Linked DNA regions of Homo sapiens: region 1 is linked to region 2. The links come from fine-mapping of genetic effects on gene expression. Tissue or cell type: monocytes. Region 2 holds a variant in brackets; the other region holds the start of a gene. All regions are shown on one strand. Distances are between the middles of the regions.

Region 1 (6,397 bases), 57 kb after region 2:
CGGCACCTGCCCTGGAGAGGAGGAGAATCACTCCCTGTCACTCCAGCCTGCATAGGTTGTTTGCTGCTGGGAAAAGGGCCTAGAGGCCCCTTTGAAAAGCATTCTTATGGTCCAGTATTGCTGGTGGAGCCACTGGTTCTGGCTACGCTGTGTCTGGAGTGGAATGGAGGAAGTTCCTAGGAGGAAGGGAAGAGGCTGAAGGACCCCTGGGCACTGACAAGGGGGGATTGGGCCAACAGAGATGCCTTTCTTCTCTCTCTTCCAAGAGGCTCAGAGTCTTTCACAGTGGTGATCAATGTAACCTCACTGAAGCCCAAAGTGGACTTATAGGAAAAAGAGAGTAACAAGATAGAGGCTTTCCTCATTCACAACCACTATGCCAGCTCTTTTCCTCCGCCAAAATCTGACATGCCGAGTCAAGCCACACCCATCGCTTTCTGGTGCTGTCTGGCTCATACTCTGAATATAATTTCATTTAGTTCCTGCAAATGCACATGTCCAACATCTCTCATCTTCCATGAGCCATGTGGCATGTGGGTCAAGGAAGCCTATTCTCTCCCTTCCCAAAGCCTTGTTAGGGGAACAGCAGGCCTCTTAGTGCAACAGATGAGCAAAGCCACATCTGACCATACATTAGTAACACATAAATAAAGCTGCAAGAGAGGAGGGATGGTGTGAGTCAGGGTCCCAGGATCCACCCATTCTCAATCTCCCCCACCTTTCTCTGCGTCAGGGCTTCCAATTAGAATGCACAGAGATGCTGGCACTCACCCAACTCATTCGTTGAAAACCAACTAATGACAAGTCAACTCAGTCAAAATGGTGGGCCAGTTGAGCTTTTCGGAAGTCACATTGTTATAAATATAAACACATGTATAGCCACAGCCTTTCCCCTTTTCTAAAGACATGAAATATTGAAACATTGCAAGTACTGATCCAGGTAAATGCTCTTAGTCGTGAATGACAAAATCTCATTGAGTAGGCCTTATATGATAAGGCAAGATTAAACATGAAAATTCAGGGGAAGGTGCTGCAGAAAGGCCAAGCTAGAATCGCCCTCTGTTACTAATAACTGGGCAACTGAAATCAATGTGAATTGCAATCTAAAACTCCCTTGCAGTTTGTTTGAGTATTTTCTCTTCAAATCTCCCCCTCTGCGTGCCTTAGTTTTACAATTTAGAATTTCATATATCTAAGCTTCTAAATGGCCAAGAAAAAAGAAGTGTTATTCAACCCGATAAAACTATGCCTTTCAAACTTGAGTTCTAATTCATGATAGGGGTGGGCCACTTTCAACCCCTATCCTCTGATCTGCCACTTTTTACATGATTTCTTCTTTATTCTCCAGTTGTTTTTCTGCTTTCTCTAGGACATCACAATCACCAGCACAACTCGCCATGCATGAGGCTACTCACTCAACCAAGATGCTATATGATTTTGGCCCTCACTCAATGTACTCACACAGGGAAGTGTTTCACACACACTCACTCAGCTTTCAGTATAAGTTACATTATTAGAAACTTTTACTTCAATTGTCTGATCACTTGGAACAAAGCAAGTTTTTTGGATTTAGTTTCTTCTGGTTGACTCATAGTGAAATATGGATATGAGACACTCCCTTATATGAATAAATTAGAGGGCAGGGCTGGGGTTGGATATAAATTATTAGTTGTGTCACCTTTTACAAATGACAGCAAATGCCTTGTTTTTCCTAGACTTGACCCTACAAAAGTCAAAAGCTGCAAAACTCTATGTCACATCAGCAAACAGTCAAATCATGCCCCAACCATCATCACCAATTCTGAATTGTTCTCAAAGGCTGTCACTGTAAGTACACAAATGTAAATGCTTGTGGAATCCCTCGCTGAATATGTATAGACCACTCCCAACTACTCTGGAAGCCCTCTGAGAAGAAGAAACCTCTTGCACTTTCTATAACTAACCTTCCCTCTGCCCTACAAGGCAAGGCGCACAATAGGTATTCAATCAACAATCATTCATTGATTGACTTATTATTTTTACCAGCAGGCATGGGAGAGAAACGGAAAACGTGTTAAAACATTTTGCATTGTAAATTATCAGTTAAGAAATTAAGGCTGTGGAAAAGAATTACACTAGTGTAAGGATCACTCAGATAAAGAAAGAATTGTGGTGTGAGATTATTACTGCGCTGAAAATGCTCACTGTTCATATTTGTCAGAAAGTGACAAACATTTTCTAAAATCAAGCGTGACCAAATTGGCCTTTGTTTCCCCCATTAACACAATAAAAGGGGGTTTAGTCTTCTTCGACAGTCTATTTCGAGTGCGAGGGGTTTTCCCCCTTTTCTTGTCTTTTTGACCCTTTGAACATAATCCACTTAGTTCCCCGCTTCCTAAAGCGCCTCCCACATAGCGGTTTGGGGAGCGCTCTGTGAAGCCCCGGCTGAGACACTTATTGGAACTTTGTTCCCCACATAGGCTATTTAGGAGCGTCTCGGTTTCCTCGGGTGACTCCACAGCCTTCCTGGCTCTTCTCACGCTGCGAGCAGGAGTCAAGGGCGGTGCGGTGCTCGGAGGGGGTCCGGGGGGCGCTGACCATGGTCCTGGCCTCGGAGCTCGGGACGTGAGCGCAGAAGGCGCGGGCGGAGGCTGTAGGGAGCGGCCGTCCGAACCCCCGCCCCTCCCGACCACCGGGGAGCCGCGGGCCTTCACGCAAAGCCTCCACCGCACGCTCTGAGCCGCTCAAAAAAAGGGTGGGGCACCCAGCCGCAGCTGCAATCGGAAGCCGCCCGGGAGGGTTTCAGAAGAATGGAACCGCGGCCAACCCCCTCCCAGACGACCACCGCCCGCCCCAGCAGGGGATCAGCCCATTCCCTATGCCCACGCCCCACCTCTCAAGCTCAAGGAGACGCGGGCAGCCTTTGTGGGCGCACGGCCGCCCACCGCCCAGCCCGAGCCTCGCCGCACCCTGCGCGGAGAAGGGGCGGGTAGGGCGGGGTGCGCGTGCAGATGCGGGAGGCGAGGTCCAGGGCGGGGCATGAAGGCGGGCGCGCCGGGCTCAGGGGCGAGGGAGGGGCGATCCCCGCGCCCCGTCCTCCGTCTCCACCCCCAACCCCCACACCGACCTGGTCGTTGATGTTCTGCAGGGCTTCTTTGCCCGAGGCCCTCCGGATCTCCACCTTCCGGCCCGATTCAACAGATGGCTCTCCGCCGGCGCGCCGGCCCTGCCGCGAGTACGGCGGCTGCGGGTCCGGGCCCAAGTGGGCGACGTCCCGCTGCTGAGCCACCACCTGCCCCGAGCCCCGGCCCACCGACAGCGAGTCGAAGTCGATGGTCTTGTTCTCCGAGGACCCTTCCACCGGGCAGAACATGCCACAGAATTTCTGCCGGGGCTTGGGGCTGCCGGAGCCCAGGTTTTTAAAAAAAGCAGGGACCTCTTCGTCCTCTGCCGCCTTCCCGGATTGCTTTCTCTCGGCCATGGCTCGGGGGCTCGGGTAGGGTCCTCGCCGTCCGTCCGTCCGTCTGCCAGTCCCTAAGTCTCCCTCGCTGTGTGCACAAGCCCCCTAGCTGCTGCCGCGGCTGCCGTTCGCCGCCCACCGCAAGGTGCACAGAAAGGAAGGAGGGCTGGCGAGCCGGCGACCCACCCTCCCGGTCCCTCCCCCTGACCCCGCTTCTCCCCTCCCTGCCCACGCCCCCCGCGGCTACAGCGCGAGCTCGGGGAAGCGGCAAAGTTGGATCTGGGAGGGCGTCCGCTGCGGCTGCGGGAGCCGAAAGGCTGCCAGTTCCCGGCAGCGCTGGGAGGAGGGAGGCGCGGGCGGGGCGCGGCGCCGGGGAGGGGAGCGGTGCTCAGGGGAGGGCTGGAGGGGAGGGAAGGAGAGAGAGAGGGGAGGGCGGCACCGCCCCTAGCCCCGCGCTCCGGAAGTGAAGCGGCCAGACCACCAGCTAATGGATGCGGAGCGGAGGGCCCGCTGACCGCTCTCCGCGCCTGGGTAAGTATCGGGCAGGGCACGCGGAGTGAGGACCGGAGGACGCAGCCCCCAGCCCCAGTGCCCCTCTCCTCCACCTGCCTGGCCCAGGCGCCTCTGCCCCGCCGCATGGCGGAGGTGGGCCGGGGGCGAGGGCGCACTGTGGATAGGGGTCCCGCCCCGTTACCCTGGGTGTGAGCTGATGGATGGGAAAAGGGGACAAGCCGGGCGCCAGGCTACTCAGGGTGTGGGAAGCGGGATGGCACTGAAGATGAGCAAGGATAGCACAGGCAGGGTGGACAGGAGGGGGGCAGCCAAGACGCTGGACACCCCAGCTTCAGTTTGTCCACTCGCCTTGGCAGGCTGCAGGGAGCAGAGACTGAAACGAGAAGGTTCCCGCTTCGTGCATCCACTTTGGTGTGGTTGGGGTGACGGGGGAGTGGGGGGGGGGCACACAACATGGCGGGAAGAAATTCAGAGGGGCGTAGCAGATGGGAGAGGAATATAGAGAGAGACGCAGGTCTGCGGTCTATGGGGGTGTAGCAAAGAGTGCAGTCGGGAATTCCAGCCCAGGGCCACGACTTAAAGACGGGGTGCAGACCGACTCTATTGCGCAAGGCGCCATGGACCGTGTCTGCGCCACTGCGCCAAGAAGGGCGCAGGAACGTGTCGCGATTTGGTTTATTCTGCTTCCTCCACCAAAAAAAAAAAAAAAAAAAAAAAAAGAGAGAAAAAACAAACTGAAACCCCCTTCCCAAATCTCCAGCTTTCCCCTGCGCCCCAGAGCCCCGCCTGGTTCCCCCGCCCCTGTTGCGCACTGCGCCACAGTCGCAGCGTTTCCCGGGTTACCAGATGCCACGTGTTTGGGGAGTAAGTGCGGGTGCGCATCTGGTGCGGAGTAGGAGGTAGGATGTGGGCTGTGAGTGCCATGAATTGTGTGGGGCCAAGCAGGGGAAAGGTGTGTAGGAACTTGGTGTGTGTGTGCAGTAGCTGAGCCACGGCCACCGGGTTGGTAAGTAACCAGGGGGCAATTAGATTTGTGTGCCTAACACGGTCAATGCTGGTCCTTCATTGCTTATTCCCATCTCCACGTCCTTTCCGCGTATCAGTCCCTGCCTCTGCGCGATGACAGCTCCGCCTCTCTTTCCACAGTGGCAAAATCCTGCAGAAATGGTGCCCCTCCTTTGGTGGCCCGGGAGGGAGTTCTGGGCATGCTCAGTAACCAGGGTGGGTTTGGGCTGAGAGGCCGTTTACCGCAGGGCCACCGCGTAGGGCCGTGTAACCAGGGATCCAGTCCCATTGTCAGCCCAGGATTAAATGCGGTTACCAACCACCCCCACAGTCCAATTGTGAGAGATAGTTTGGTGAATATAGTTACATCTGCTGGACAATCAGTCGCAATTTGAAGATCAGCCCATCTTGATAGGTGGAAAGGCGTCTCCGGATGAGAAACAGACTGGGGAAGAAGAATATAGGAGTGGAGGGGCTGAGAGAACCGGAGGGGGCATTTTGGACTTAGCGGCAGATGTGCTTTGCATTTGAATAAAGCATTTGAAAAAAGCGCTTCCAACTGAATTACATCATTTCCTACTCACAGCCCCACTGTGAGATGCGTGCCTTATCAGCACTGCTTTCCAGGTTAGGAAACAGATTTAGAGAGCTTGGGGCGCATAGCCAAGGTTGGGTATTTAGTTAAATGATCCAGCAATTCCAGTGGGAGTCTTCCACCTCAAAGTCTGGCTTCTTTTCCAGCTTGTCCTGTGACCCCCTTTATGTGAGAAAATACAAGGTTCTTCTATTTCTACCGTATCCAGATATTTCCATCCATGGCCCTATTGTATATCAAGGGTGTTTCTTGCCATGTTTTTATTTGAAGGTAACACTGCAGGTCACACTGGGAGGAAGAGTCATCTGAAGATAGCCTAACTTCAGCATAGCAGTCATTCTGTAGACCATAGAGATGCTTTTTCCTGGGCAGTGTCTTTTTACATTCCCTGTTTCCTCTAAATATCCCAGTGGGGAGGAAGGTTGCCCCCAGCTGGTTTTTTTATTTTTGTTTTTGTTTTCAGACAGAGTCTCACACTGTCACCCAGGCTGGAATGCAATGGTGCAAACGCAACTCACTGTAGCCTTGACCCACTCGGCTCAAGCAGTCCTCCCTCCTCAGCCTCCCAAGTAGTTGGGACTACAGGCGAGTGCCACACGCCCAGCTAATTTTTTTATTTTTCCTTTTTGTAGAGACAGGGTCGCACTATGTTGCTGGTCTCAAACTCCTGGGCTCAAGTGATCCTCCCGCTTTGGCCTCCCAAAGTGCTGGGTTTACAGGTGTAAGCCACTGCACCTGGCCCTCCCCCACAGTCCCCACATTTTAGAAAGGAAAAGTCAGGCATGGAGAAGTCAGCAGTCTCAGGTCTCTGGGGCTCCTGGGCACAGGGGTGAAGCAGCATTTTG
Region 2 (6,397 bases):
TGCCTGAGCAGATCCATGAGTGGGAAGAATGCATTTTAACCAGGTGCTGTATCAGAGTCTGATCCCTGTCTTTTCCGCAGCTTCAACTCCCCTCCCTGGACACCTACTCTGTCCCCATGCTCAATGGGTGCACGCACACAGTGTCAGAGCAAACTTCTCACTGCCCCTGAAAACAGTGTGCCCTCCCTAATCTACATCTTGCCCTAAGCCGTTCTTTTCCCCTCCTTCCCTCTGAAACAACTGAAATGTTACCATGTCTATGAAGTTTTCCCCATCCTACCCCCACAGCCTTAAGCACTCCTTCCTGTGTTCAGCTCTGCTATAACACCATCACTCTATAATGACTTGCACATTTCTTCCATCAGGCCTTGACTCCTAGAAGCAAAAAGCCCCCTCTTCTCCCAGCTACCAGCACACTGCCTTGTCTCTGGCAGGTGCCCTTAACATTTTGTGCATAAATAAGTGCCATCATTGCTATGACGAGGACAAAGGTTCTTCCACCAAGGTGAGTTTTAATGTCAAAAAAAAAAAAAAATCCCCAATGCAAGCAAGCCTTTCCCTTAGGACTATCACTTTTTTTTTTTTTTTTTTTTTGAGGTGGAGTCTCACTCTGTCGCCCAGGCTGGAGTGCAGTTGCATGATCTTTGCTCACTGCAACCTCTGCCTCCCAGGTTCAAGTGATTCTCCTGCCTCAGCCTCCCGAGTAGCTGGGATTACAGGTGCCCACCACCACGCCCAGGTAATTTTTTTTTTTTTTTTTTTTTGAGACAGTCTTGCTCTGTTGCCCCAGGCTGTAGTGCAGTGGCGCAATCTCGGCTCACTGCAAGCTCCGCCTTCTGGGTTCATGCCATTCTCCTGCCTCAGCCTCTGAGTAGCTGGGACTACAGGTGCCTACCACCACGCCCAGCTAATTTTTTGTATTTTTTAGTAGAGACAGGGTTTCACCGTGTTTGCCAGGATGGTCTCGATCTCCTGACCTCGTGATCCACCCACCTCAGCCCCCCAAAGTGCTGGGATTACAGGCGTGAGCCACCGCGCCCGGCCACGCCCAGGTACTTTTTGTATTATTAGTAGAGATGGGGGTTTCACCATATTGGCCAGGCTGGTCTCAAACTCCTGACCTCAGGATCTGCCTGCCTCGGCCTCCCAAAGTTCTGGGATTACAGGCGTGAGCCACCACACCCAGTCAGGAATATCACTTTGCCGGGCCTTCCTTCTTGGCAGCCTCCCCTTCTCCAAGCCCCTGAAACTCCAGGAAGACCTAATGTTATTATTAACAGCTTATTATTCTCTGCGGGGCTGTAGCTGCCTAGATTTTAAGCTCCGCCTCCACTAACAAAACTGCTGTGTATCAGCAAGCCTGGTAGAACACGGAGACAGCACCCAATCCTAAAATGAAGGTCGAAGTCATACAAGGTGTCTCTAGTAATTTTTTCTCAATTTCTGAAACTGTCCTTTACTCCATCCTCCCATTATTCTTCGTACATCCCTGTGTGATCCCATTCATCGCAGTAAACCACCTACACAATACAATCCTCACCGACACCATAACTAGGTGAGTGTGATTTTTCTTCCATTCAAGGTTTGAGCTCACAGGGAAGAAAAACTCTTTCAAAAGTCTTACTCATTCCTGACCAGGCGCAGTAGCTCATGCCTGTAATCCCAACACCTGGGAGGCTGAAGTGGGCGGATCACCTGAGATCAGGAGTTCGAGACCATCCTGGCCAACATGGAGAAACCCCATCTCTACTAAAAATACAAAAACTAGCTGGGCGTGGTAGGGGACGCCTGTAATCCCAGCTACTCAGGAGGCTGAGGCTGGAAAATCACTTGAACCTGGGAAACGGAGGTTGCAGTGAGCCGAGATTGCGTCACTGCACTCCAGCTTGGGTGAAAGGGCGAGATTCCTTCTCAAAAACAAACAAAAAAGTCTTACTCATTCCTTATCCTTACAGAGGGCCTGACAAGGCTGGGGGCTCAAGCAGGACTGAATGCAGGGAGGGAGGTATGAGTGGAGGCACCCAGCCAGCCCTTTGCACATGTTTGCATCATCCAAACTGCAGGGAAGTGGGGCTGGGGAGATGCAGACATAACTCCAGTGCCTCGGGCGGCTGTGCTGCTCTCAGTTCCTCAGCATCTGCCCGGAACGTGTTCCCTCCCTGACTAGCCCACTGCTGCTCTTGGTTTCATGTTCCCCTTTGGGGAGCTAGAGTAGCCATTTCTGCTTCTGTGGCGCCCTGGGTCTCTGCGTTAGTGCAATGTTCAGAATTTCACAGAGTAGGGGAACTCCAGAGCAGAAACTGCTGACAAAACAGAGCCCAGAGGTGGCAAAGAAAATCCCCAATGCCCAGAGTGCTGCAATTGGATGCCAAGGGCTGTGGCCTCTAACACAGCCTGCAGAGAAGGTTGAAATGAATGCGGCAGTAAAGAGAAGGTACTGGAATCCTTCTTTGCCAAAACAAAGGGCATTGACTAGGACACTTGAGCTGGAAGTGATGCCTTCTTCACTGCAGATGGAATCAGGCAATGACGATCGTTTTCTTTGTGTGTGTAGCTCTGAAGGGTCAGAGACTGCAGATTGGATCGGAACCTGCCCACTGCCTTCCCCTGTGGCTGCATCCTTTTAGCAGCAGTGACAGTGGTGACAAATGAGGGTCAGCAGTGACTGGCCCTCCGAAACAGACGCTGCTTTGGCTAGAACTGTACAGACTGCCGGCCAGCATGGGGGCTCTGCTAGGATTCTGAGGACACATCCTCCCTGCAGGAAGACAAGAAGCTCATCTGTCCAAATCCTGCTGGACAAGAGGGCACAGAGGAAGCATGCACTTCACAGAATCTAGTCGACTCGGGCTTTCTCTTATCCCCAGTTAGCGCACACACCTCCTGAAGA[A/G]CTCCTGCAATGCCCACCCTGCACCTCATTCTCTGGGTGGCTACAGATGTTCCCTGGGGTCTTTCTATCCCTGATGGGGACAAAGGGCACCTAGCTCAGCCATCGTGCCTCAGGCCTGCCCTCTGGTGGCGAACAAAGAGTGTGCACGTGGTCCCCTGCGTGCTGGTCTCCAAGCCAGGGCAGGGCCTTGGAGATCACTTGTTTCCGTTGGTGTGCCCAAGTACTCCCCTCCATCAGAATCACCCTGGGCCCCAGCTCAGACATCCTGAACAGAATATCCGGAGGTAAGGTCCAGGAAGGTTTTTAAACTAGTCTACTTCTGGACACTTAGCGACAGATCCAGCCCACTCCACCCTCTATTTATAGAAGGAGGAAAACATGGACTAGGAGGAAGGGCTCACTCCCTACCTAGTGAGGGGTCCACTCACCACAGGGCATCACTGGTCTGCTCTTTGTCCAGGGGGAACATTATGAAAGAGTGGTAAATATTATCCCTCTCATTCCACTTGTCTGCCTTCTGGAAACAGTACAATCTTCTAAAATACTGTTATGTTGTCAGTGAGGAGGAAATTAACATGTATTGAGCACCTACCATGCTCTAAGCATAGCACTGAGTGCTTTAAATACATCTGCTTTAATCTTCTCCAAAATCCTACTGGGTAAATCTTCAGATCCTCATTTTATAGACGAGGAGAGAAAAGCACAAAGAAACCTCTTGTTCCAGGCCCAGATTCTAATTTGGGTCTGTGTGACCCCAAAGCCCAAGGGGCTAGTTCTTTTTTTTTTTTTTTTTTTTTTTCCTTTTCTAAGACTGAGTCTCACTCTGTTGTCCAGACTGGAGTGCAGTGGCGTGATCTCAACTCACTGCAACCTCTGCCTCCTGGGTTCAAGTGATTCTCATGCCTCAGCCTCTCAAGTAGCTGGGATTACAGGTGCCCACCACACCTGGCTAATTTTTGTATTTTTAGTAGAGATGGGGTTTCACTATGTTGGCCAGGCTGGTCTCGAACTCCTGACCTCGTGATCTGCCCACCTCAGCCTCCCAGTGTTGGGATTACAGGCATGAGCCCCCGCGCCTGGCCAAGGCTAGTTCTTTTAATGGTAAGGTACTTGTTTAGTAGAAACTGGGACCCACCTTGTGCAAGAGGTAGGCACAGGTGATCGGCTGTCTTTCTTTACTCCTTCCACTGTCCCCAGTCCACATTCCTTAGATGTTTCCCCTTCTCCCGAAATCAATTCTCCATCTCTTTCTTTCCTCATAACCCAGTGTAACTCAGTTTCACTCAGTGGCTCTGGCCCTCCCCTCATAGGAAACATGACAGACGAACATAAAGGTTTAAATGAATGATAAATGCTCAGTGTGCTACTCCTCTGCTAAAAAGAGAAGACCCTGGTTAGTAGAATTTCAGACACCAAGCCAGGCTGCTTGCATAAATAAAATGCAAACCGTTTATCAAGTCTGCTGCGTGTGATCTTGCCCTTCTTTTTTAAATTTTTTACTTTTATTTTTAGTAGAGACAAGAGTCTCACTATGTTACCCATGTTGGTCTCAAACTCCTGGCCTCAACTGATCCTCCTAAAGTGCTCAGATTACAGGTGTGAGCCACCGCGCCCGACTGATCTTACCCTTCTATTCCTTTCCAGCTTCATCCTGTGTTACGTCCCCAAGCTCTCTCATGCCATAGCACACTGATGTCCTTCCTTTCCCTGCAATGGCCCTTTGTGGCTGCTGTTCTCTCTTCTCCCATCTCTCCTTCTTGCCCATGCATCCCTGCTTCAGGGAGGCCCTCCATGACCTCCCTCCTGATGCCAGCCCATGTACTCCTACTCTTCCTTGTCTCAGCACTATCTCTTTAATAGCAACAATTATAATTTGGAAGTATTTTTGTGCATTTGTTTACTTGAGTATTTCCAGTCTGTCTCTACTTCTCAATTGCAAAGCCCCTAAACCACCTAGTCCTCCACTCCACCTTACAGTGACCGCACAACACTCAACAAACAAGAGTTAAATGACAAATGAACAGGAGAACCTTTCTAAAGATACCTGTTCTTCAGCCCAGGTGACCGAGGCTTCATCTTCCACCTGTTGCCTCCCAGATATGCACCTGCCATTCTCTAATCCTGATTCATCCCAGGCTTTGGGTTTTTCTTTGGTTTTTTTTTGTTTTTGTTTTTGTTTTTTTTTTGGAGATAGGGTCTTGCCCTGTCACCCAGGCTAGAGTGCCGTGGCATGAGCATAGCTCACTGCAGCCTCAAACTCCTAGGCTCAAGCGATCTGCCTCAGCCTCCCACATAACTGGGACTACAGGCATGCATCACCATGCCTGGCTAAGTCTTTTTATCTTTTGTGTAGACAGGGTCTTGCTATGTTGCCCAAGCTGGTCTGGAACTCTTGGGCTCAAGCAATCCTCCTGTCTCGGCCTCCCAAAGCAGTGGGATTACAGTTGGGGGCCCTCACGCCTAGACTTCACCCCAGGCTTTTAAAAGACCAGATGGTGAGGATTCACCTGACTGGATGAGGTCTCATGGCCTAGGTTCTAATGATCCAAGGCAGAGCGAGCAGATTCCTTTTCTACTGGGATCTGTCCTTGGGAAGCATCAAGCCTCACATTCACAAAGCTCAGCTGTGCCTGGAGGTCCAATCATGATAACTGCAGCCGGGTTCCTCTTTTCAATCCCGCACTTCAGGCTTGTACTCACCACAGCCAGAAAATACCGCAGATCTCCCTCAACTGGGCCCTCCTTGATTCAGAATCTGTGTCGATTCTGAAAACGGCCAAGGAAAAGGGGTAACTATGAACTCTGAAAGTGTAAATAACATTTCAGGAGTTTTCATCTCTTAAAAGAATCCGCCATGATCAATGTACTGAAAACTGCTCACTCATCCAAAAACACGCCATGGTTCTTGGCCATTTGTCCATTTCGGTTCCCTAGAGGACACTTTGGGGCAATTTATTAGCTTAGTCTGTGAATGCTTGAAAGTAGTCCATTTGGATATTGTAAAGATTTAACAAAATTCTGACCTTTCCTGTAAATAAATTGGTCCTCTTTCTGCCCTCCTTACTCCCCCACCCTGTTTGTTTTCAAGGAGTGAGAATTTATTACTGACCTTGTGTGCCAGCTCTCAGGAGACCAAGGGGGATCAGGAGATGTTTACAAGTTCCCCATACACAGTCCCCCTCTTGTAGTACAACGCTGTAGAAAGAGAGGTCACAGGTGAATGGCACGTGATGCTTTACCAATGCTTTACCAGCTCCAGGCAAACTGTGCCCCTCTACCTAGGCTTGGGCTGGGGGCTCTCCACCCCCACAGTGTCATCAACCCAACGACTGGTCTCCCTCCAGCTTCTGGGCACTTCCACTGTCTTGAGGAACCAGACAGAATTCTTCCTATCTTCCTATCAAGCAGATAAGGAAATCATTGAAAGAATAAACAGCCGAATGCAGTTGTGCTGTTAGTAACCATCAGTCTCATTTGTGGGCTTTAAACTAAATTCTACATCTGTGG

What was found. PIP is the estimated chance that this variant, and not a neighbour inherited with it, causes the effect.
Region 1: it holds the start of DPYSL2, and the variant in region 2 is fine-mapped to the expression of DPYSL2 in monocytes (TOPMed, PIP 0.98).

The regions. Positions count from the first base shown.
Region 1 is chr8:26,511,389-26,517,785 of GRCh38, reverse strand. DPYSL2 (dihydropyrimidinase like 2) reads right to left here and starts at 3,755. Exons shown (of 14, transcript NM_001197293.3): 1 at 3,107-3,755. The coding sequence starts at 3,460. PNMA2 (PNMA family member 2) reads left to right here and starts at 3,914. Exons shown (of 3, transcript NM_007257.6): 1 at 3,914-3,970. RefSeq lists enhancers at 4,800-5,672, 5,459-5,753.
Region 2 is chr8:26,568,034-26,574,430 of GRCh38, reverse strand. All of the region lies in intron 1 of DPYSL2 (dihydropyrimidinase like 2), which reads right to left. Among named protein-coding and RNA genes, the nearest start is that of DPYSL2, 57 kb to the right of the region's middle. The variant A/G (reference allele first, on the strand shown) is at 2,891.